5 separate regions of the Homo sapiens genome follow, and all the other regions are linked to region 4. The links come from fine-mapping of genetic effects on gene expression. A gene starts in region 4. Each other region holds a variant in brackets. All regions are shown on one strand. Distances are from middle to middle.

The links. PIP is the estimated chance that this variant, and not a neighbour inherited with it, causes the effect.
Region 1: its variant is fine-mapped to the expression of ADAM17 in whole blood (INTERVAL, PIP above 0.99).
Region 2: its variant is fine-mapped to the expression of ADAM17 in whole blood (TOPMed, PIP 0.98).
Region 3: its variant is fine-mapped to the expression of ADAM17 in whole blood (INTERVAL, PIP above 0.99).
Region 5: its variant is fine-mapped to the expression of ADAM17 in spinal cord (GTEx, PIP above 0.99).

What each region holds. Positions count from the first base shown.
Region 1 is chr2:9,510,697-9,515,799 of GRCh38, reverse strand. The region is part of intron 10 of ADAM17 (ADAM metallopeptidase domain 17); the gene reads left to right. It also overlaps a transcript of IAH1 not described here. Among named protein-coding and RNA genes, the nearest start is that of IAH1, 39 kb to the right of the region's middle. The variant A/TA (reference allele first, on the strand shown) is at 2,753.
Region 2 is chr2:9,392,231-9,397,333 of GRCh38, reverse strand. ASAP2 (ArfGAP with SH3 domain, ankyrin repeat and PH domain 2) reads right to left here. Exons shown (of 28, transcript NM_003887.3): 24 at 3,687-3,852. Among named protein-coding and RNA genes, the nearest start is that of ITGB1BP1, 29 kb to the left of the region's middle. RefSeq lists enhancers at 3,209-3,846, 3,847-4,484. The variant G/A (reference allele first, on the strand shown) is at 2,030.
Region 3 is chr2:9,304,306-9,309,408 of GRCh38, reverse strand. All of the region lies in intron 3 of ASAP2 (ArfGAP with SH3 domain, ankyrin repeat and PH domain 2), which reads right to left. Among named protein-coding and RNA genes, the nearest start is that of ASAP2, 100 kb to the right of the region's middle. The variant AAGG/G (reference allele first, on the strand shown) is at 2,662.
Region 4 is chr2:9,553,167-9,558,269 of GRCh38, reverse strand. ADAM17 (ADAM metallopeptidase domain 17) reads left to right here and starts at 2,440. Exons shown (of 19, transcript NM_003183.6): 1 at 2,440-2,761. The coding sequence starts at 2,665. RefSeq lists silencers at 1,516-1,810, 1,782-2,001, 2,232-2,521, 3,136-3,430.
Region 5 is chr2:9,483,905-9,489,007 of GRCh38, reverse strand. IAH1 (isoamyl acetate hydrolyzing esterase 1 (putative)) reads right to left here. Exons shown (of 6, transcript NM_001039613.3): 5 at 4,458-4,576; 6 at 1-861. The coding sequence ends at 679. ADAM17 (ADAM metallopeptidase domain 17) reads left to right here. Exons shown (of 19, transcript NM_003183.6): 19 at 1-522. Among named protein-coding and RNA genes, the nearest start is that of IAH1, 12 kb to the right of the region's middle. The variant T/CT (reference allele first, on the strand shown) is at 3,085.

The sequences.
Region 1 (5,103 bases), 42 kb after region 4:
CAGCCACTTTGGAAGGCAGTTGGCAGTTTCTTTTCTTTTTCTTTTTTCTTTTTTTTTTTTTTTTGGAGACGGAGTTTCACTCTTGTCACCCAGGCTGGAGTGCAATGGCGCCATCTCGGCTCACTGCAACCTCTGCCTCCCAGGTTTAAGCAATTCTGCCTCAGTCTCCTGAGTAGCTGGGATTACAGGTGCCCGCTGCCACTCCCAGCTAATTTTTGTATTTTTAGTAGAGATGGGGTTTCACCATGTTGTCCAGGCTGGTCTCGAACTCCTGACCTCAGGTGATCCGCCTGCTTCAGCCTCCCAAAGTGCTGGGATTACGGGTGTGAGCCACTACGCCCAGCCATAAGAATGTTTATGGCAGCTTAATTCATAATTGATAAAACTTGGAAGCAACCAAGATATCCTTTAGTTGGTAAATGGATAAACTGGCACATCCATAAAATGAGAAAAAAATAAAAAGCTATTAAGCCATGAAAAGACATAGAGGAACCTTAAAAGCATACTACTAAGTAAAATAAGCCAGTCTGAAAGGCTACATACTATATGATTCCAAATATATGACATTCTAGAAAAGACAAAACCATGCAGACTATAAAATGATCAGTGATTGCTAGATGCTGGGGGAGGGAGGGATGAATAGGTGGAGAGCAGGGTAATTACTCTGTATGATACTTCAACAGTCAGTATAAGACATTATGCATTTGTTGAAACACATAGAATATACAGCACAAAGAGTGGACCCTAACATAAACTGTGGACTTTGGGTGATTTAAAAACAGGTGGTGGCAGGAGCCTATAGTCCCAGCTACGCGGGAGGATCACTTGAGGCCAAGAGTTAGAGGCTGTAGTGTGATAAATGCAACTGTGAATACCCGCTACATTCCAGCCTGAGCAACTTAGCGAGATCCTCCTTTTCTTTTTTGAGATGGAGTCTCGCTGTGTCTCCCATGCTGGAGTGCAATGGCATGATCTTGGCTCACTGCAAGCTCTGTCTCCTGGGTTCATGCCATTCTCTTGCCTCAGCCTCCCAAGTAGCTGGGACTACAGGCACCCCCACCACCACGCCCGGCTAATTTTTTGTATTTTTAGTAGAGACGGGGTTTCACTGTGTTAGCCAGGATGGTCTCAATCTCCTGACCTTGTGATCTGCCCGCCTTGGCCTCCCAAAGTGTTGGAATTACAGGCGTGAGCCACCGTGCCTGGCCTGAGACCCTGTCTCTTTTTATTTATATATATATATATATATATATATATATATATATATATATATATATATATTTATATTTTAAATTTAAGTTCTAGGATACATGTGCACAACGTGCAGGTTTGTTACATATGTATACATGTGCCATGTTGGTGTGCTGCACCCATTAACTCGTCATTTACATTAGGTATATCTCCTAATGCTATCCCTTCCCCCTTCCCCCTCCCCCCACCCCACGACAGGCACCGGTGTGTGATGTTCCCCTTCCTGTGTCCAAGTGTTCTCATTGTTCAATTCCCACCTTTGAGTGAGAACATGCGGTGTTTGGCTTTTGTCCTTGCGATAGTTTGCTGAGAATGATGGTTTCCAGCTTCATCCATGTCCCTACGAAGGACATGAACTCATCCTTTTTTATGGCTGCATAGTATTCCATGGTGTATATGTGCCACATTTTCTTAATCCAGTCTATCATTGTTGGACAATGTTGAACAATAATGTAGAGTGGTATGAGAAAAGAAAAAGACACTAATTAGCTTTTGGGAATCTTTTAATTTCTTTTTTTCTTTTCTTTTTTTTTTTTTTGAGATGGAGTTTTCTCTTGTTGCCCAGGCTGGAGTGCAATGGTGTGATCTTGGCTCACTGCAACCTCCGCCTCCCGGATTCAAGCAATTCTCCTGCCTCTTTCTCCTGAGCAGCTGGGATTACAGGCATGCGCCATCACGACCAGCTAATTTTGTATTTTTAGTAGAGATGGGGTTTCTTCATGTTGGTCAGGCTGGCTCTCAGGTGATCCGTCTGCCTCGGCCTCCCAAACTGCTGGATTACAGGCGTGAGCCACCGTGCTTGGCCTTAATTTCTAAATTTATTTTTTTCTTATGGTACTTTGTTTTAGGGGAAAAAATCTCTCAAACTGTGTTTTCCCTCTATTCTCACATCACAACCATCATCATCAACACAGAAGACTTGTGTGACCAGACCAAACGTGTGGGGATTTCCCCCTACATATCAAGCAGTAGACATCAGCTAGGTGTCCTCCAATTCAATTCAAACACTCTCCACCCGGAAATAGTATCAGATCTCACAGTTTGAGGGCCCAGTCCCACAAGACTGACTGTTCCCTCCTCCCCACCAGTTACAAGTCTGAGCCTCCAGAACTTCTGACCAACTGGCTTCAAGTTGGGGTTTCCACATTCTCCTCTTTGGGTCTGATTAATTTGCTTAAGTGGCTCACAGAACTCAGGGAAAAGCTTAACTTAGTTTATGGGTTTATTACATAGGATATTTTAAAGGATACAAAGAAGCTGGGTGCGGTGGCTCACGCCTGTAATCCCAGCACTTTGGGAGGCCGAGGTGGGTAGATACCTGAGGTCAGGAGTTTGAGACCAGCCTGACCAACATGGTGAAACCTCGTCTCTACTAAAAATACAAAAATTAGCCAGGTGTGGTGGTGCATGCCTATAATCTCAGCCACTCGGGAGGCTGAGGCAGGAGAAGTGCTTGAACCTGGGAGGCAGAGATTGCAGTGAGCTGAGATTGCGCCACTGT[A/TA]CTGGTCAACAGAGGGAGTCTTTGTCTCAAAAAATAAAAAAAAAAGAAAGGATACAAAGAAATAGCCAAATGAAGGGATACATAGGGCGAGGTCTGGAAGGGTCCCGAGTACAGGAGCTTCTGTCCCCATGGAGTTGGGATGTACCTCCCTCCTGGCACACGAATGAGTTTTGCACCTTCCTGTCAACCTCCATGTATTCAAAATGCTCTCTGGAAGCTCTCTGAATCCTGTTTTTTGAGATTTTATGGAGGCTTCATTACATAAGCACGAATGACAACTGTGTAGAAATGTGATTGGACAAAATGGGTATGTTCTCATACTAACCGACTGAGTGGGGAAGCCCACCAAGGCCTGTCCAGATTCTCCTTGACCTCTCTGTGCAGCATTCCTCCCTCCACAGTAAAGGGCAGGACCCTCTCTAGAATGAGAATGAGAATGAGGATCTCTGGACCCACAATCAGATTAGAGTCTTGCCTTGGATCAGGTAAAAGGAGGACAGGAGAAGGTCAGAGAGAGAGATTCTGTTTCCTGAGGATTGCTCCTGAGCCCTAAAGCACCCCAACATTATAACAGAAGACCGTAACCAGGGCTACGGAGGGTTGTAAGCCAGGAGCCATGGACAGAAACATACATGTGTGTACAGTAGCTCACGCTTTTACTTTTTTGGAGTCACAACTTCTTAATGGCTTGATTTCATGACATATTTTCTTTGGTCTTCCAGAACTTTCCTCTTAAAAAAACACAGCAAAAAAACAAAATTTGATTTGAAATTTTTGAGATTTTTTTTTAAGAGTCATTAGCAAATCCACTAATGAATTTTCCCCAAGCAGTTAGGAGATATTTCTCTTCATTACACCTTTGGGATTTGAGTGCTTTTGCTAAAAATTTAAGTTTTTTTTCCCACTACGGTTTTAATATGAACATGTGGAAAGACTTCTTGTATAGAAAAATGACTTGCAAAATATTATTTTTTCAGGTTCTATGGAGTGATTTCCCCCCCTTAGGAAAAAAGAACTCAGGAATTTTAAGTTTATATGTATATATATTTATTTTATTTTATTTTATTTATTTATTTTAAGACAGACTCTCACTCTTTTGCCCAGGCTGGGGGTTCAGTGGCCTATCTCGGCTCACAGCAACCTCCGCCTCCTGGGTTCAAGCAATTCTTCTGGCTCAGCCTCCCAAATAGCTGCGATTACAGGCGCCCACCACAATGCCTGGCTAGGTTTTATATTTTTAGTAGAGACAGGGTTTCACCATGTTGGCCAGTCTGGTCTGGAACTCCTGACCTCAAGTGATCCAGCTGCCTTGGCCTCCCAAAGTGCTGGAATTCCAGGCGTGAGCCACTGTGCCTGGCCTTTAAGTTTGATATTTTATTCAGATAAATATGGAAAAAAAATTTTAGCTTTATTGGCAAAATTTATTATTCATATAGAAATCATCTGATAATCTGATAGATTAAGTACAGCCCTGCAACTGGATTCTAATAAACCAAGTCCTCTAGGTCATTAAGATTGTTATTGGACATGAATTCAGTCATTGAGAAAATAAAACATTGTTTTGTTGTTCCTCAGTTGTGGTTTTTGTTTTTTTTTTAAGATAGAGTTTCACTCTTGTTGCCTAGGCTGGAGTGCAATGGCATGATCTCAGCTCACTGCAACCTCCGCCTCCTGGGTTCAAGTGATTTTCCTGTCTCAGCCTCCCGAGTAGCCGGGATTACAGGCGTGCGCCACCACACCCAGCTAATTTTTTGTATTTTTAGTAGAGATGGGGTTTTACTATGTTGGCCAGGCTGGTCTCGAACTCCTGACCTCAGGCGATCAACCCACCTTGGCCTCCCAAAGTGCTGGGATTACAGGTGTGAGCCACTGCGCCTATCCGTACTGTTTTTTTTACCCCTTGCTTTTTTTTTCCTTTCTGCTGAGATGCTTTAGGTTTTAACAGACATGTGATTGGGCCGAGGGGCATGTGAGGAGGCTGGACAATTAACTACAGTTAGCTTATTGCATTTATCAGCACCAGATTGTGTGTGGTTGAAATGGCCAAGGTTTGATGTTTTGTTATGAATGTTCCAGTATATCTTATAAATTACATTTTCTTAAATTGATTTGTTACTACTTACAATAATGTTTGATAGTATTAAATAAAATCCTACTTATTCTGTTAAATTCATATAATTGGTAGAAGAATCATAGTCCGGTTATTACTCTTTTTTGAGACAAAGTCTTACTCTGTCACCCAGGCTGGAGTGCAGTGGTGTGATCATAGATCACTGTAGCCTCAGCCTCCTGGGTTCAGGTGATACTCTCACCTCAGCCTCCCAAGTAGCTGGGACCACAGGTGTGCACCA
Region 2 (5,103 bases), 160 kb after region 4:
AGAACGCTTCTGAGAACAAGGAACCTGCACCTCACAGCTGACAACCACGGTTCTCAGAGTCCCAATAACTGCTGGGAGCTGACGGCTCCTTAGCCAGGACTTCAACACGTGATTTGTTTCTCTCGAAAAACAGCAGCATGGAAAGCGTAAATCCCAGGGAGTCATAAGGGAAGGCAGAAGAGAGCCCAGAAGCCAAGAGAAGCATGGCCTGTGGCCACTTTGGTATAGAGGCAGAAATAATTAGCACTGGAAAGCCCATTTATTACAGCATAATTCAGTAGCTGTTTAAGACTAGGAGGGCACAGATATGCATATTTTATTTTTATTTTTTTGAGACGGAGTCTGGCTCTGTTGCCCAGGCTGGAGTGCAGTGGTGTGATCTTGGCTCACTGCAACCTCCACCTCCTGGGTTCAAGTGATTCTCCTGCCTCTGCCTCCCGAGTAGCTGGGATTACAGGTGTGTGCCATCATGCCCGGCTAATTTTTGTAATTTTAGTAGAGATAGGGTTTTGCCATGTTGGCCATGCAGGTCTTGAACTCTTGGCTTCAAGTGATCCACCCACCTTGGCCTCCCAAAGTGCTGGGATTGTAGGTGTGAGCCACTGTGCCCAGCCCTGCATGTTATATTTTAGAAAGTTATCTTGCAAAGTAGCATTTAAAAAGTTTTGGGAGTCTTCTGGTTAAAATGGCAGATTTAAGTACATTTACTTCCATTTCTTTCCAAGGAAAAGGATTTTTAAAAATTAAACCTAAAAGAGGTGAGGCGCAGTGCCTCATGCCTGTAATCCCAGTACTCTGAAAGGCCAAGGTGGGAGGACTGCTTGAGCCCAGGAGTTCGAGACCAGCCTGGGCAACATAAGGAGACCCCCACCTCTACAAAATATAAAAATAAATTAACCGGGCATGGTGGTGCGTGCCTGTGGTCCCAGCTATGCGGAGGCTGAGGTGGGAGGATCACCTGGGCCCAGGAGGTCGAGGCTGCGGTGAACCGTGATCACACCACTGTACTCCAGCCTGGGCAACAGAGTGAAAGATAAATCACAGTCAACCTAGTTGATCTCAGGAATGGAATCCCACTCCAGCAGTGAGGAAGGCCCTGAAATGCTCCTATCTGTAGTCCTGAAGTGTCCTCAGAAGGCTCAGGACCCTCTGGAAGGGGAGAAAGGCAAGGTAGTATGCAGAAGAATTAGCCAAAAATCTGTCTGAGGAGCTCCTGAACCCCTGGAATCTCGCCCCAGCTCTGAGTAGCCTTAGCCGCTGCCCTGCCCAACCTACTAAGGACAGGAAGCTTCTATTCTTGGAGAGGGCAAAACGGACGGTGTCTGGATGGGGGATACCAGGTGCGGCTATTGGGAATATCTTGAAAAACAGAGGGACTAAGTAAAAGTTTAACTTTATTTCTCTACTCCTAAAAAACTTCAGGGATGGGCTGGGCACAGTGGCTCAAGCCTGTAATCCCAGCACTTTGGGAGGCCGAGGAGGGCAGATCACGAGGTCAGGAGATTGAGACCATCCTGGCTAACCCGGTGAAACCCCATCTCTACTAAAAATATAAAAAATTGGCCAGGCGTGGTGGTGGGCACCTGTAGTCCCAGCTACTTGGGAGGCTGAGGCAGGAGAATGGTGTGAACCTGGGAAGCGGAACTTGCAGTGAGCCAAGATCGCGCCACCGCACTCCAGCCTGGGCGACAGAGCAAGACTCCATCTCAAAAAAAAAAAAAAAAAAAAAAAAAAAAAAAGAAAAAAAACACAAGAAAAACAAAACAAAACAAAACAAAAAAACAAAAACACAGTAGTGCAGGGATTACAGATGTGGGCCATGGTGCCTAGTCTCCAAATTCTTTATTTTTTTATTTTTGAGATGGAGTTTCATTCTTGTTGCCCAGGCTGGAGTACAATGACGTGATCTCAGCTCCCTGCAACCTCCGCCTCCTGGGTTCAAGGGATTCTCCTGCCTCAGCCTCCTGAGTAGCTGGGATTACAGGTGCATGCCACCATGCCCAGCTAATTTTTTTGTATTTTTAGTAGA[G/A]GTGGGGTTTTGCCATGTTGGCCAGGCTGGTCTCAAACTCTGGACCTCAGGTGATCCGCCCACCTTGGTCTCCCAAAGTACTGGGATTACAGGCGTGAGCCATGGCGCCTGGCCCCAAATTCTTTATTGAGAGGTGGAACTGATGACTTCCTTGTGCCACTCCACAGTCCTCTCTGCCCCGACTGTGTCTGAGCTTGTAACTGAGCAGTGACGTATGGCGGAAGTCATTCCGTGCCAGCTTCCAGGGCCAGGCCTCTCTCTGGGGACCTGTCCGTGGACCCAGCCACCGTGATATGAGGAAGCCCATGCCAGGGACATGTAGGTGTTCTGGTCACAGCCCAGCTGAGGCTCTGGCTGACAGGCAGCGTCAGCTACCACGGGGGGCGTGAAGAGACTCTGACCGTAACCCCCAGCCAACGAGTCACCTCCTGTGTCCAACCACCCCCAGGCTTCGAGTCCTTTCAGCGAAGGCTCCAGACACTGTGGAGAAAAGACGAAGACCCCACAGTACCATCCAAATTCCTGACAATCTGTCAGCAGAATAAACTGGCTGTGCCTCATGTCTGTCAGTCTGGTGTGGTTTGTTACTAGAACAACTGAAATCAGAGATGTCAATGTGAACTCATGGATTTCAATACAGAAATATACGGAATAGAGAGATAAGTGGTGTATGTATGTATCCATGTACATGTGCGTATATTTCCAAGTTCTAACAGCTCAGAGGGCCTGTGTGGGAGCAGTGACTCTCCACCTAGCCCCCAGAACTTGGCCTCTAAATATCATTTCCACTAAAAGGAACCATTTCCCACCATAAAGATCCAGATTAAGAGCCACGAACTGGGGCCTGGTGCAGTGGCTCACGCCTGTAATCCCAGCACTTTGGGAGGCCGAGGCAGGTGGATCACGAGGTCAGGAGATCGAGACCATCCTGGCTAACACGGCGAAACCTCGTCTCTACTAGAAATACAAAAAATTAGCCAGGCGTGGTGGGAGGCACCTGTAGTCCCAGCTACTCGGGAGGCTCAGGCAGGAGAATGGCAAGAACCCTGGAGGCAGAGCTTGCAGTGAGCCGAGATCACGCCACTGCACTCCAGCCTGGGTGACAGAGCTAGACTCAGTCTCAAAAAAAAAAAAAAAAAAAAAAAGCCACAAACTAGACCCATCTGCAACAAGGGGCATTATTTGGACAAACAGCTAAGCTTGACCTGGGTCTAAGGATTGGGTGGTGTTTCTACATCCGTGTTAATTTCCTGATTTTGCAGGTGGTATTGTGTGAGGTAGGACAATGTCCTTGTTTGTGGGAAATCCACGCCTCACACCACAGAGGGTCTATGTGTTCAAAACAACCTTGGGAAAATAGAAAACAGAAACAGAGACCACCTGGGGGGTGAGCAGCAAATAGAACCCAGAAGCCTTGTGTGTTGAGGACACTTTGTCTGAATTCATTCTGTGGACTTAAAATGTACATTTGTAAGACATTTTTACAGTCTAAAAATCCTCCAGTTATTTTTAAGACCCTTCAGCCCCGATGAATTAGTTATGTGGCGCCCACGCTGGAGTAGGAGCCCTGGGGATTGCAAACATTCCTGCAGAGCCCTGGGCAGGTGAGGTCAGAGGGCAGGAGCACGGATGGCCGAGCTGGCTGGGGGTGGCTTACCCCGGCGCAGGCTTCTTCTGCGGGAGGCGGCTGGGCGGCTGTGGGGGCAGAGGTGGGGGCCTGATCTGTGAGATCCCAGGCGGGGCAGGCTTGCTCGGCTGGCTCAAGGCTTCCATTACGCTGGGCGTCTTGGCAACGGGTGGGGGCGGCGTGGGGGTCAGGGGATCTGCGGAGGACAGGGAGAGACGTGCAGAGGGTCAGCCGCCAGGCTTCCCACTCAGGCCTCCTCACTGGAGGCTTTTCTGAGAAGGGCTTCAGTTTTTTATTGCTATTTCCTAAGGAAAAACCTGCTGCTATTTCCTTGCCAGTTTTCAGAAAACCATTCACAGGGAGGAAGCAGGGAGTCCTTTCCAAACTAATAAGGAAGCTGGGAGCCTAAAGTTAGGATGACAATTTTTCTATCAGCCTGTGAGTGAGTATTTTCTCAGCTAGAACTCCCTGGGGGAAAGCCAGCAGTTTCCTGCTCTCCACTCAAAGACCCAACAGCAGGAGGCCGGGGCCCTCAGCTCTGCCCGGGGAAGCAGGGCCTGCTTTGCACATCGACTGACCTGTGGCCAAAGGGATGAGGCCCTACCCACTTCATCGGGCTGCTGGGCAGGGTGGATCTGAGGAGAGATGGGAGCTACTAACTTAGTAACGGCTCCTCAGTCTCCGGAGTGGGTGGGTGAAGAGCTTTCTTAGTGTCTACGTTTTACAGACAAGGAGGCTGAGGCCCACGGAGGGGAAGAGCTCTCGTCAAGGGTGGCAGAGCTGGTAAGACCTGGAGGGAGGCTGTGAGTCCAAGTCTCCTTCCTCCGTCTCTCCTCCCTTGATAGGCATTAAGCCCTCTCTAAATGTCGGGCTTATCATACTGGGCCTCAGGATGGGTAACACATAAGGCGCTGGGTTTCCCTCTGCCAGGAAAAGCCAGGAAGAATGAGGCCTTCAGCTACACAGAGAGGAAACTGGCGTGGGGAAACATGAAGGGATCCAGCTTATGATCTTTCTTTTTATCATTATTGTTTCCTTTTTCCAATTTAAAGGAAAACTCAAAAGTCTGACTCTAGCACACAAATGCAGCCCCTGGACCACCAGACGGAGAGGCAGGAAAGTGGTTCCTTCTGGCCTTTGGTGTGTTCGCCTTGGAAACCTCTGAAGACCCTCCCAGACCCACTGCTCCCGGCTCTGCTGCCGGCATGTGCACACATGGCACTGACTCTAGCTGGGGCTGGGCTGCTTTTAATTTTAACTTACTCTAAGGAAGTCACGAGCACCTCGGCTCTAGAATTCTCATGCTCTGGAAGCAATGAAGCCCAGAGATGCTGGACTCCCCACTCCAGGGCTGCTGCAGCAGGAGACAGGGCAGCATCCAGGGCTCGCTTCTCTGATCCAGTGAAAAAAGACTTTAGTTCTGTACACTGGAGAAAAACTTCTTCCT
Region 3 (5,103 bases), 250 kb after region 4:
TCTGGAATCATCCCGCATGTACGCCTTTTCATCTGGCTTCTTGCATCATGATTTTGGGACTGCGCATGACTGTGCGATTCATTCATGTAGTTGCGTGTACCAGTAGTTCACTTCTTTTTCTTGGCCAGCACTGTTCCATCATATGGCTACACTGCCGTCTAGCCAGACACCTGCTGATGGACATTTGAGTTGTTTCCAGTTTGGGGGATACTACGGATACCACAAATAAAGATGCCATGATCATTTGTGGGATGGAGACTCTTTCAAATAGTGTCAGAAAGGCCTTTTTATAAGGTGGTCTTGGAGCAGAGCGCAAAGGAGGCGGGGCAGAGAGCCACATGAGGACCTGGGGGAAGTGCGCTCTGGGCCAACGGGACTCTAACACAAAGGTCCTGGGGCAGGAGTATGACTGGCAGGTTCAAAGGACAGCTCTCTGTTCTTTCTAAAGGCCGCTTATCTGAAAGAACGGGTATCCAGGCAGAAAGTATTTTTGAGAAGCACAAGGTACTGACTAAAATGGCCTGAATAAACCACCAGATGACACAGGGCCCTTTAATCCCATTCAACCCTTGCAATTACTCTGAGAAGTATGTGCCGTGACCCCCATTTTGCAGGTATGGCAACAGAGGCTTGAGTCATCCACGTTGCCTCCAAATCACACAACTATTAGCAGCGGAGTTGGCTAGAACAGTGAAGCCAGAGCTCTTCCTCTCAGCTCACTATTAAAGACGGCTGGACTGAAACTCCTGCTGGCACAGGGCAAGATGGTTTACACCTGCCAGGCCAGGCTAAGCTAAGCTGAGGCTGGGCACATGCTGCCATCCTAGATGCTGTCTCCATCGAAAAGCCCTCCTGTTCCCTTTTACACAGAGCAGCCCGTCAGGTACATACAAGGAAACTCTAAACAGGAAAATCACTGATGTGGTTTGGGTCTGTGTCCCCGCTCAAACCTCATGTCCAATTGCAGTCCCCAGTGTTGGAGCTGGGGCCTGGTGGGAGATGACTCAATCACGGGGGTGAAGTTCTCACGACTGGTTTGGCATCATGCCCCTTGGTACTGTGTAGCAAGTGAGTTTAAAAGTGTGTGGCACCTCCCGCCTCATTCTTGCCCCTGCCCACGGCCATGCGAAGTGCTGGCTCCCCCTTCACCTTCTGCCATGATTGTAAGTTTCCTGAGGCCTCCCCAGAAGCCGAGCAGAGCAGATGCTGCCATGCTTCCTCTACAGCCTGTGGAACCGTAAGCCAATTAAACATATGTTATATATGTGTGTGTTATATATGTGTTATATATATGTTACCCAGTCTCAGATATGTCTTTATAGCAGTGCAAGAACAGACTAATACAATCATCTAGGCCACTTTTGTTTTTGGTGTCAGTGAACAGATCCCCTGGGCCACAGAATTGCCTTGAGGTCTATCATACACACATGCATGCACACGTACACATATGCATGCACACAGACAAGCACACGTATGCACACACTCCCGTCTATGCACTCTCACACAGGGCCCTCCTGAACAGATGCGCCCAGCCCGTCCCTGGCAGCACAGTCGCTGTTTAATTAAAAAGGAGAAGGGGGAGCCCATGCTGATCCTAAGTGTTTAACACAAACTGAAAGATCAAAACCAGCCAGCTGCCAAAAACACATTGGCAACTTTCACACCAGAACAAGGAGGAAAATCGCTGACCTGGTTTCTGCTCTTAATGCTGCTTCTCTGGCAGTCAACAGCTCTGATCTTTCAGGCTCTAAGTGGAGAGAAAACTGGGCCCTCTGCCCCCTTCTCCACTAGAATAAAGGATAAGCTTGGACATGTCAGTCAGCCACCAACAACCACACTGACACCAGCTGAAGGCCGGTTCTGGGAGCCGGAGGGCAGCACTGGAGAACCCAGGACTCAGGCACCCAAAACTACTTCTAAAACCGGGTGATGGTAAAACATTTGCTGAAGCCATCAACCAGAAATGAAAGTACTTTTTCAAATGTATTACCTCCAAGAATCCAGGTTTAGGAAGTAGCTCTGACCTCCACAGGACCTGGGGCACCTGAAGTCTCCATCTCGCCAAGGGTGAGAGTCGGAAGCACTGGACCCAGGCTGTCCTTGGGGCAGTGGTTCTCAGTGTGGCTCCTGACCAGCAAGGCCAGCGTGACTAGGAACAGGAAATGCAAAACCCTGGGCCCTATCCCAGACCTGCGGAATCAGAAACTCTAGGGGAAGTCCAACAGGTGTGGTCTAACAAGCCACGCAGGCGATGCTGATGCACTCCAGCTGGAGAGCCACAACCCTGCAGGTGAGGTGTGGAGGCTGGGGCTGCGCATTTCTAACAATTCCGGTGCTGCTGGTGCAGCTGGCCCAGGGGCTGCACTTGGAGGACCTCTGCTCCAGGGCAGTGCTGCTCAAGCTTGACTGCCTGCTATTGCCTGGGGCTCCTACACACTAAGATTCTGGCTTTGCAGGCCTCCGAGAGGCTGGAATTCTAAGAAGCCCCAGGCGATTCCAGTGATGCTCTGTGGATGTCCGGCCAGGGCCCCTGGGGCACCAATGGTACAAACCCTGCCCACATGCCTTCTAAGCTGGAACCTGGAGTATATGGGCACTGATATGGGGTGCCAGGCTTCAGATTTTAAGCAATGATTACCAAACGGCTGAAAGTTCCCAAAG[AAGG/G]AGGAATGCAAACAAGCACATGCTGAATTTCTATCAATTCGCTGACAATTCCCTCAGCGAGCCAGGAGCAGAGGCTTGACTCCTGGCTGGGCTCATCAACCCGAGGACAAAGGGGCACAGGATCTCCACAGCTCACAGCCCCCCATTTTCCTTCTCATCAACCTTGAGCTTCCAGCTCCTTCCCTGGGGCCCAGAAACAGGCTCAAGCCCCTCTCACCCTAGGAACCCTTCCCACCTGCTTTCCTCTTCCGTTATCAACCCTTCTTAGAACAGTGAACACCTGTGGTCCCTATGCCTCCACCTGCAGCAGCCGCTCTTCTGCCTTTAAGAAAGTCTGGGAAACGTCCCTGAGGCCCCTCGCAGGCACCCAAGCCGACACGGCTGCTCTTCTGCATCCCTGCTGCGGATGTGGCTCCCCGACCTCCTTCACTCACAACCCCCACTACTACAGCCCTCCCACCCGGTATCTCTATCCCCTACAGCCCCACCAGGCCATATCTCCACCCCCAGTACTACAACTCTCCACGTGGTATATACACCCTCCTGCAGCGCTTCCACTCCCTCTCTACACCCCTAGAGCCCCTCCACCCCATGTCTACACCCCCACTACGCCAGCCCCTCCACCAATATATACACCCCTCACAGCCCCTACCCCCATAACCCCACCCCCTACAGCCTCTCTACCTCATATCGATACTCTCCCACAGCCCCTCCATCCCATATCTACCACCCCACTACTACAGCCTCTACACCAATATCTATACCCCACTACTACAGCCCCTCCACCAATATCTGTACCCCACTATTACAGCCCCTCCACCAATATCTATACCCCACTACTCCAGCCTGTCAACCAATATCTATACCCCACTACTACAGCCTCTACACCAATATCTATACCCCACTATTACAGCCCCTCCACCAATATCTATACGTCACTACTCCAGCCCCTCCAATATCTATACCTCACTACTACAGCCCCTCCACCAATATCTATACCCCACTACTACAGCCTCTCCACCAATATCTATACCCCACTACTACAGCCTCTCCACCAATATCTATACCCCACTATTACAGCCCCTCCACCAATATGTATACCCCACTACTCCAGCCTGTCCACCAATATCTATACCTCACTACTCCAGACCCTCCAATATCTATACCTCACTACTACAGCCCCTCCACCAATATCTGTACCCCACTATTACAGCCCCTCCACCAATATCTATACCCCACTACTACAGCCTCTCCACCAATATCTATACCCCACTACTACAGCCTCTACACCAATATCTATACCCCACTACTACAGCCTCTCCACCAATATCTATACCCCACTATTACAGCCCCTCCACCAATATCTATACCTCACTGCTCCAGCCCCTCCAATATCTATACCCCACTACTACAGCCCCTCCACCAACATCTATACCCCACTACTACAGCCTCTACACCAACATCTATACCCCACTATTACAGCCCCTCCACCAATATGTATACCCCACTACTGCAGCCTGTCAACCAATATCTATACCTCACTACTCCAGACCCTCCAATATCTATACCTCACTACTCCAGCCCCTCCACCAATATCTATACCCCACTATTACAACCCCCTCCACCAATATCTGTACCCCACTATTACAGCCCCTCACCAGTATCTATACCCCACTATTACGGCCCCTCCACCAATATCTATACCTCACTACACTAGCCCCTCCACCAATATCTTTACCCCACTACTCCAGCTTGTCCACCAATATCTATACCCCACTATTACAACCCCCTCCGCCAATATCTATACCTCACTACTCCAGCCTCTCCACTAACATCTACACCCCACTACTCCAGCCTGTCCACCAATATCTATACCCCACTATTACAACCTCCTCCACCAATATCTACACCCCACTCGTCCAGCCCCTCCACCAATATCTATACCTCACTACTCCAGCCCCTCCACCAATATCTATACCCCACTATTACAACCCCCTCCACCAATACCTATACCCCACTAGTCCAGCCCCTCCACCAATATCTATACCCCACTATTACACCCCCTCCACCAATATCTATACCTCAATACTACAACCCCTCCACCAATATCTATACTCCACTACTCCAGCCTCTCCACCAATATCTATACTCCCAAGACTACAGCCTCTCCACCCTGTATCTACACCCCCACAACTGCAGCCCTCCCACCTATGTACATCCCCCTACAGCCCTCCCACCTGTATCTACACCCCCCCTACAGCCCCTCCACCGCATATCTACACCCCCTACAGCCCTTCCACCCCCTATCTACATCCCCACTAGAGCCATTCCACACAGTACCTTGTAGATTTGGCAAACAATTTTTTTCTAAGTTTGAGGTCACCTACATCGTGGCAGTTGTCCCTTTAATAGCCAGCAATTAAGAAAACACACAATGAC
Region 4 (5,103 bases):
ATTGTGTCACGGTACTCCATCCTTGGCTGCAGAGCCAGACCGTCTCAAAAGATAAAAGAGCCGGGCGCGGTGGCTCATGCCTGTAATCCCAGCACTTTGGAGGCCAAGGCGGGCAGATCACGAGGTCAGGAGATCCAGACCAGTCTGGCCAACATGGTGAAACCCTGTCTCTACTGAAAATACAAAAATTAGCTGGGCATGGTGGCGCACAACTGTAGTCCCACCTACTTGGGAGGCTGAGGCAGGAGAATCCCTTGAACCTGGGAGGCAGAAGCTGCAGTGAGCCAAGATCATGCCACTGCACTCCAGCCTGGCAACAGAGCAAGACTCCGTCTCAAAAAAAAAAAAAAAAAAAAAAAAAGATAAACTAATTAATCTATCCAGTGCCCCTCTTACCATATTCCTTTGGCTCTTTATCTCCCCCACGTGGTGCTCTTTTATCTTAAAAGTATGCACAATTGATAAATGAAAGATGAACTGCAAATTGGAATAATTTGGGTCCTGATTTGTGAATTGAAAAGATTACTTGAAATTTGGAATGTCCCTGGAAATCTAGGACTTCTGGTTATTCAGGCCAGGCGCGGTGGCTCACGCTTATAATCCTGGCACTTTGGGAGGCCGAGGCGGGTGGATCACCTAAGGTCAGGAGTTTGAGACCAGCCTGGCCAACGTGGTGAAATGCCATCTCTACTAAAAATACAAAAATTAGCTGGGCGTGGTGGCGGGCGCCTGTAATCCCAGTTACTTGGGAGGCTGAGACAGGAGAATCGCTTAAACCTAGGAGGTGTTCAGTCGGTTGTAGTGGGCCAAGATCACGCCATTGCACTCCAGCCTGGGCAATAAGAGCGAAACTCTTTCCCCCACCACCCCCCCCCAAAAAAAAGAAAAGAAAATGGATCGGGATTTTTTTTTTAAACGGCATTTACTAAACAGCTAAGTACCTTCTATGAGCAAGGCACTGTACAAGAGCTGTTGGGGATACCAAAATAATACAATCTACGATCTACTAAAGTTACAAGCCGGACATTATGGTGACTGGATGTTCAGAAAAGAAACCAGATGACATTATTATGGTACACCAAAAAAGCCCCCCAAAAACCGTACTCAACTGTCACATTCTTATGGAATACAATTTTTACAGATTGTATACAATTTGCATGTGAAATTCTGCTTACTTTTTGACTAGGTATGCCACTAATGGGTATGTTTAATAAAGATATTTTATACTTCAGATGTACAGACCAGGTCCGGTTAATTTTAGCCAACAATGTATTGTTGAAAAAGACGCTGATATTTTACTGCGGCAAACCACCATTAACATAAATTTTAACCACAGTTTGAGTATTTTATTAGGAATAAGCCTTGAAACTTGAATAGGACTAGTATTCCTAACAATTTACCGTTTCATAATAAAGGCTGTCTCACTCTTAAGTGGAAAACGTATTATGTCCTACTTTTATAAACTTTGGTTGAACTAAATAAAACAGCAACATGTACCCAACGTTTTTAGACTGTTTTATTCAGTACCATAAACATTCACTAAACTATACAGAGCTAAAATCATGCAAAAGATTGCAAAACAAACTGCCTTGGGAAATTTCCAGTCTAAGCTAAATGGACCAAGTATAGGATTGAATTTTAAGAAGTTGGTGGGAAGATTCCAGCTCTTGTACTCACAGGTAAGGTCCTAGGATTCTATTTGTTGAAGTGTCTGCAGACCCTCTCCCTACAGCAGGGGCGTGGAGCAAATGTGCATTCAGGAAGTGCTTATTAGTCCCCCCAAAACCTTTTTCGTGACGACAGACGGATGGAGGCCTCAGACGACTCCGGCAGTAGGACCCTGAACCAAATGCCTGAGCTGCGCTCGAAAGGCTCGTCTCGCAGGAGCTGGCGAGTGGCACGGGCTTCGGTGGCCGGGCTCGGGGCTCGGGGCTCGGGGCCCGGGGCCGGGGGGGGCGGGGGGTCCGTGCCCAGGGCACTCTGTGGCTCGATTCATGTCCCCGCCCTCCCACCTGAGCACACTGGGCAGAGAGCCTGCGGCATCGGGCCAGTCGCGCCTCCTCGTCCGCCCTGGGCAGGTCGCTGGGCCCCAGGCCGCTTTCTACAGCTCCTTTAATAAAATGGACAGCAGGGGTCCTAACCAGACGTGGGCATCAAGACAAAGGAGGCGGCCAGACGCGCTTGAGGGCCTGCTCGCTAGCTCCCGCCCCCCCATTCCGCGGTCACCCGGGGACAGAGGCCAGGCCGGACTGGGTGGAGTTGGGACTCATACGTCTGCGTCCAGGAAGGCGCCGGGCGAGCCCCAGCTAGACGTGACGGGCGGGGCCGAACACGGCAGCGGACCAGAGGCCCGCGGCGCACCGGCGTGGGGCGGGGCAAGCGGAGCCTCCCGGGATGCCGCGCGGCAGCCGGCTTCCGGCTGTGGGTGGTGCGGGGGACAGCGGCGGCCGGAAGCTGGCTGAGCCGGCCTTTGGTAACGCCACCTGCACTTCTGGGGGCGTCGAGCCTGGCGGTAGAATCTTCCCAGTAGGCGGCGCGGGAGGGAAAAGAGGATTGAGGGGCTAGGCCGGGCGGATCCCGTCCTCCCCCGATGTGAGCAGTTTTCCGAAACCCCGTCAGGCGAAGGCTGCCCAGAGAGGTGGAGTCGGTAGCGGGGCCGGGAACATGAGGCAGTCTCTCCTATTCCTGACCAGCGTGGTTCCTTTCGTGCTGGCGCCGCGACCTCCGGATGACCCGGGCTTCGGCCCCCACCAGAGACTCGGTAAAGACCCAGGGGAGTTGGCTTAGGCCGGCGCCTGGAGCGCTCGTTTGAGGGAAGAGCAGGGGAGCTGGGTCTATCAGGTGTTTGGGGGCGGGGTATTGGCGATGGTGGCGCGTCCCTAAGTTTTCAGTGTAGAAGGGGGTGTGGCTCTCGGAGTTTGGGGAAAGAATAAAGGAGATGGGCCTGTCTCTGAGTGGGAAAGGGCTACTGGACGGGCTCCATGTAGTGACTGAGCGCCTGAGAGGGGTTTGCTCCCTAGCTTTGTGTTCGGGGAGGGTGTTGGGAAAGCGGTAAGGAGTAGGGTGGCTGGATCTTGTTTGGAGAGGGAGATGTGGTCAGGGTTCTTGCCTTAGTAGGGAACAAATCTAGTGTTGTGTGTTCCTACCAGAGCCAGAAAGGAAGGGCCCAAAGCTCCAGAATTCTTCCTGGTCCTCGAAGGAGGGAACTAGAATTTCTGCTGTAGGAGGTACTTATGCAGTAATCTCGTTGGGAGGCGGAGACTGGAGTTGGAGTCTTAAGAGTTGTGTTTTTGCGAACATCCTAAGCACGTTCTTGGTTATTTCAATTGTAGCTTATTGGAGGTGCTTGGGAGATGGGGGGAGGCGGAAACCTGGTAAGCCAACTCGTGATGCTGCCACTATGAATGCTTTCCTTGCACTTTTAAACAAAGAAATTATCAAGAGTGACGAGTTTGATGAATTTAGAGGCTAGAAAGTAGAGGGTTCCTATTTCATTAGATTTTCCAGAGAGATTGGATTTTAAGGATGGAGATGCATTAAGGGATCTGAACTTTGGTGGAAGTAAGTTTGCGTGAACTTTTAGTGTATTTTAAAATCCTTTTATCTTTCAAAAATTGACGTGTAAGATACTTTAATTAGTAATAAAGTGTGAAATAATGTTTTCCCAGTGTGTGAAATTGTAGGCTTGCATGGTTGTACTGGTTCCCAAATTTCACCATGATACCATGTGTAGTATTTTTTTTCTTTATATTTAGTGGACAGAAATTGTAATGGATTGGTATGGATACTAAAGGTGTTGAGAGTGTTATCACTTGAACAGCTGTCTTATGATTCTTTCCGATTGAAATGGATTACAAGTGACTAATGAAAGGCAAGGGATCTTGTTAGGAAGTGCTGAGAAGTGGTAAGTCAGTACAAATTGAAGGACATTTTGAGGTAGGATTGTGGTTAGGATGGAGGGATAGGGTAAGGGTCTTCATTTTAAGGATAAATGTTAGTAAAAAGAATAAATATGTATTTTGAGATATTAAAATTATATTTGCACCACCCTGACACAACTGTTTCACTTATGTTATTAATCTGTTGTTCGTAGGTAAAAATAAGCATGAGTCCCAAGGAAGCATACAGTTTAAAGAGAAACATTACTTTCTAGATCAATTCATAACATTTGCAGATCGTAAGGTTTTTTAGACCATTTTTTTTTTCCAAGACAGAGTCTTGCTCTGTTGCCCAGGCTGGAGTGCAGTGGCGCGATCTCAGCTCACTGCAACCTCCGCCTCCCGGGGTTCAAGCAGTTCACCTGCCTTAGCCTCCTGAGTAGCTGGGATTACAGGCATGTGCCACCACGCCCAGCTAATTTTTGTATTCCTAGTAGAGACGGGGTTTCACCATGTTGGCCAGGCTGGTCTAGAACTCTTGACCTCGTGATCCGCCCACCTGGGCCTCCCTAAGTGCTGGGATTACAGGCATGAACCACCGCTCCTGGCCCATGTGTTTGTTTTTTATTTGCAAAATGCAGACCACCTGTGCCAGAAGAATGCATAGACTTTTCTTTTTTCTTTTCTTTTCTTTTTCTTTCTTTTTTTTTTTTTTTGAGGCAGTGTTTTGCTCTTGTTGCCCAGGCTGGAGTGCAATGGCGTCATCTCAGCTCACCACAACCTCCGCCTCCCGGGTTCAAGCAATTCTCCTGCCTCAGCCTCCCAAGTAGCTGGGATTACAGGCATGTGCCACCACGTCCGGCTAATTTTTTGTATTTTTAGTAGAGATGGGGTTTCTCCATGTTATTCAGGCTGGTCTCGAACTCCTGACCTCAGGTGATCAGCACACCTCGGCCTCCCAAAGTGCTGGGATTAAAGGCTTGAGCCACCAGGCCCGGCCTCTTTTTTTTTTTTTAAACGAAATATTTGAAGGACACACAAGTATTATACGTGGCATTGGAAATACAAAGATCAGACGATATCCATCTTCAAATGGTTATAGCATAGGGAAATAGACATTCATTTAGGACACTTCTAAAACAGCATAGAGGAGAGTGCTAGAGTACGTTATAGCAAGTGTTATCACCAAATGAATCTTAGAGATCAAGTCTAGTTTTCAAATAAA
Region 5 (5,103 bases), 69 kb after region 4:
TGCTCCAGGATTCTGGATGGGCTGCATTTACTGTGTGAAGGATAAAAATCATTAGCCTGGATTCTGATTTCTATAAATTGCCATTAAAAGCTTTTTTTCCCCTAAGAACTGAAATGTGCTCACCAGCCAAAACATTTTAACTTGTAAATTTTGAGGGCAGTTAACCAAACCTGTGACTAATCATATCTCCTCCTACCCCCCATTTCCAAGGACATTTGTTACTCAGATACTTGTTATACTAATACTTGAACTTGTACCTTATGGTATTTGCTATCTTTTAACTAGTCATGATATTCTTATACTTTAGTTACACTTTTGGAATTTGATACAAGGTTGAGTGGGGTGTGTGGGTGTATGTATGAGTGAAACAGTTCTCAAAAGAATGTAAGAAAAACCATTTTTATAAAATTGTGACTTTTTAAAAACATAGTCTTTGTCATTTATAGAATTAACAAGCTGCTCAGGGTATATTTTATAGCTGTAGCACTGATATCTGCATTAATAAATACTGTCGAAACACAATGGACCTAAGTATAAAACTTCCCTGAAAAATCATCTAATACTTTTATTATTAATATCAGTGGCAAAGGTTTAAGCCTGAGGAAAAAAGCGTACCTCTACGTATTGACAACTTTGAGTTCTGTAGATAACAAGCAGATTTGGGTCTCCTGTGATTGGCTAATGGTCTCCATCTCCCAGCAGACTTAATTCAGGTTTTGCTTCTGCTACATCCCGCCAGTAAGGAAGCAGCAAAGGTAGAGAAGAGACCTTTTTCTCTATCAAAGGCCAGAGATGCGAGAACAAAAATTCATTCCCCTTTGGAGACAAATGTAGTCCATCTGATAAATAAGATGAGAAGTCCTAGAAGGGAGAGAAATCGGTTAAAGGTGGGTAACTGGCCACGTGTGGTAGCTCACCCCTGTCATTCCAACACTTTGGGGCCGAGGATTACTGGAAGACAGGAGTTTGAGACCCTGTCTCTACAAAAAATTTTAAAAATACAAAAATTAGCTGGGTGTGGTGGCAAACACCTGTATTCCCACCTACTTGGGAGGCGAAGATGGGAGGATCACTTAAGCCCAGGAGTTGGAGGCTACAGTGAGGTATCATTGCACCACTGAGTTCCAGCCTGGGTGATAGACTGTCTCCCCCCACAGCGCGCGCGCGCGCGCGCACACACACACACACACACACACACACACACACACACACACACACAAAAAGGCCGGGGAGGGAGGGTATAACTTTTCTAAATGCCAGTGTGTACCATTCTCTCATTTGTGGCCCTGCGACAGAAATATCACCAGCCCCTTTCATTGTAGGCATCTGACCAGAGGTGTCTTGGACTACAGTAGCACTGATGTGCTATTTACGTAGGTGTTTGAACACACAGAGAACCCTGACTAGTGCTATAGTGCTGTCTCCATATTATAGAATTGAGTTTCATGAAAGTCACTCACCATTAAGTGAGCTGGGACCTCATTCCAGGTCTTCTGAATCATATGACATGATTCTCAGGTTATTTGAAAGAACCTTAACAGGTAAATATGGCCTATTAACGTAATCAGCAAAAATGAAAAATTTGGTATTAGGAGTGTTCAGGGGCCCCATGAGTCAATATTGTTTTTGACTCTAGGCAGGTTTTTAGGCAGAAAGAACTTCTACCATCTAACCTAGAACAGTAATTGCTGGGACACAGGAGTCCAGTCTCCCTCCCATTGCCCTGAACTCAAGAGTACATATTTAAAAAGATACACATATTTTTGGAGACAGGGTCTTGCTTTGCTGCCCAGGCTGGAGTGCAGTGACATGATCATGGCTCACTGCAGCCTCAACCTCCTGGGCTCAAGCGATCTTTCTAACCTCAGCCCCCTGAGCAGCTGGGACTACAGGCACGTGCCACCATACCTGGCTACCTGGCTAATTTTTGTGCTTTTTGTAGAGATGGGTCTCTCATTATGTTGCCCAGGCTGGTTTTGAACTCCTAGGCTCAAGCAATACTCCCACCTTGGCCTCACAAAGTATTGGGATCACAGGCATGAGCAGCCATACCAGGCCCTGAACTATAAGAATTTTACCCATACAGCCATTTCTTTCTTGGGGAAGAATCTCACTAGCCAAGAGCTCTGTTAGAATCTGGGTGGCCAACTAGCTTATGTGACTTTTTTTTTTTTTTTTGAGCTAGAGTCTCACTCTTGTTGCCCAGGCTAGAGAACGATGGCACAGTCTCGGCCTAATTCAACCTCTGCCTCCCGGGTTCAGGTGATTCTCCTGCCTCAGCCTCCCAAGTAGCTGGGATTACAGGTGACTGCCACCACGCCTGGCTAATTTTTGTATTTTTAAGTAGAGATGGGGTTTCAACATGTTGGCCAGGCTGGTCTCGAACTCCTGACCTCAGGTGATCCACCTGCCTCAGCCTCCCGAAATGTTGGGATGATAGGCATGAGCCACCGCGCCCGGCCTTATGTGACTTTTAATAGACCAGAAATTTAGATGCTATCATATAATAGTAGCACTTCTTCTTCGGCCTTGGTTTTCTCATCTAGGCAGTTTGAGATGAGATGATCTCTAAGGACGACCCTCTCAGTTTTGTATTAAATTGAAAAAGACATGTGAGCAAAACTAGCCCAATAGTTTGCAGTTTCCTTTCCTAGACAACAGAACTCTAGATGTCGACCCTTTTGGCACTCAAGCTGCCAAGGCCCCTCCTAATCTGGAATTCTGGAAGGTTCCAGTACTCCAGGGTTTCAGAGGAAGACTAGAGGCCTAGGGTCCAGATCTGCTTAGGCTCTCAGGGCCTCCAAAGGTGACTGGTGACTCGGCATCCACGTGGTAGTATGACTTTCCCACTGGTGACCATTTTCCCTATTACAGATGGATAATAAATGTGTAGGTCATTGGAACGATTGGTATGGATTAATATTTAGGGGAGAGGAAAAAGTTGGCACTTGGGTTAGTTTCTTGGCTGTTTTCTATGTTGCTTTGTCCAAGTAGCCTAAACCTAACAGCTAGGAATAGAGGAAACCGGTGAGGCTGTGAGTCTTCCCGTTTGTCCAAAGAGCTTCCCGCACACTGGATCCTTCC[T/CT]TCCCTTGAGTACTTCAAATATCATCAGTCCCGTCCAAGCTTTCTCTCTGGATCCCAGCATAGCAATGAAGTAGCCTTTAATGTGCCCTACTGAACAAGCTCTTTACAAAAGAGTAGCACAAGGTCACAGAAAAATTAAAAAAGACCAGTGCCTGTCTGCCCCTCTTCACCAGTATCTGTGTGGAACCTGAATTTAGCCATACCTTTCCTTGCCCTAACCTCTGGCCACCATGGACCTGTTCTGTTACTGCAGTCTTGCCTTTTTTTGGGGGGTGGGCTGGGGAGGGTGAGACAGTCTCCCTGTATCCTCCAGACCGGAGTGCAGTGGTGTGACCTCTGCCTCCCGGGTTCAAGCGATTCTCACACCTCAGCCTCCTGGGTAGCTGGGATTACAGGCGCGCTCCACCATGCCCAGCTAATTTTTGTATTTTTAGTAGAGACAGGGTTTCGCCATGTTGGCCAGGCTGGTCTTGAACTCCTGAACTCAGGTGATCCACCTGCCTTGGCCTCCCAAAGTGATGGGATTACAGGTGTGAGCCACCACACCCAGCCCAAGTCTTGCCTTTTTGAGACACCAAAACAGATGGACTCATGTAGTAAGTAGCCTTCAGAGACCAGCTTCCTTCCCTCAGTGAAGCGCCTCGAGAGTCACCCACGTTGCTGCGCTTGTCAGTTCCTCCTCTTTATTGCCGAGTAGTATCCCATTCCACGGACACACCAGTTTCCCTATTCATCACAGAAGGACACTGGCGTGTTTCCAGCAGGTAGGAATAATGCTGCTGTCAACAGTTACACCCAGGTTCTGTGTGAACATAGTTTTCATTTCTCTAGGGCAGATAACCCAGGAGTGGACTGCCAGGTCCTCCCTAAGTGTATGTGTGACTGCGTCAGAAACCAGCTGTCTCCTGAGTCAGTGCACCATTCCATGGGACCTGCTTTTTACCTTTTATATTTGTGCTTTCAGGCTTTAAAACAAAGTAACTTAATTAGAACTACATATCTCAAACAGTTTTATTAGCCAATACTGTATTTAAATTCATTGTTTTACCTATTAACAAGTTTTAGCTTTCTGCCATTCTCTGTATGAAAGAAGAACTTGGCCTGGACGTTCATAAATATGAGCCATGTGTTGCTCATTGATGTCACTGCGCACTAACTCCTAGCCAAGGAGCCTGGCTGAATTAAGCTGCTGGGCTTGTGAGCCATCCTGGAACCTCCATTCCTCCCCTCCCCCAAGCCTGTTTGTTTTCATTGGCTAAAGGGATGACTGTCTTAGCTAAGCAGGGCCTTTCTAGGGAAAGCTGCTGCACACACACCTGGTTTACTTCTGTGTGATCCTATTTACCCCGAGAGGACCGAGCAAGCCACCGTACCTGGCTGTCCTGCATCAGGGTCCACAGGTCAAGTACGTCAGTCCCACAGTCTTGGGCCACTTGTAAACACGCATTGGCATATTCACCAACAACAGAGTTCAGGCGATTTAGTTTGCAACCTATTGAAGAGAAGAAATAGAGGTGGCAGTTGGTAAACCCAAGTGCTGGCCCTTGTGTAAGTTCTGCTCCACTCATCTAGACAGTTTCAAAATGCCATTAAATATTGACCCCACTTGGGCCAGCCCCGGGGTTTAGGGTATATGTTGATGAGCCTTGCAGGTTACTGGTGTGCTGCTCTACCCAGCAGAGGACAAGGTGCAGTGGGAAGAAGGAGCCTTCAGTGGTAACCGGAATCTTCTGAGGCGCCAGGGAGGATGTTCTAGAGGACACCTTGAACAGAGGCAGAGAGGCAGGAAAGGCCCAGGAGGGCTGGGCTGCTTGGAGAGTGCCGGCTGCAGGAGCTGGGCTGGGGGCTGGTAAGGGCTGCACTAGTAGGAAATGCCAGGCCATGGAAGCTGAACGCTGCGCTGACACCGCTGGCTTCTTACATGTAACAGCTGGACCGCAACACAGCAAAATCATTTGTCGGCTTTAGACAAAGAGACCTTCGTTTTGATGCCTACAATTTTCACTAAATAGCGGTGTG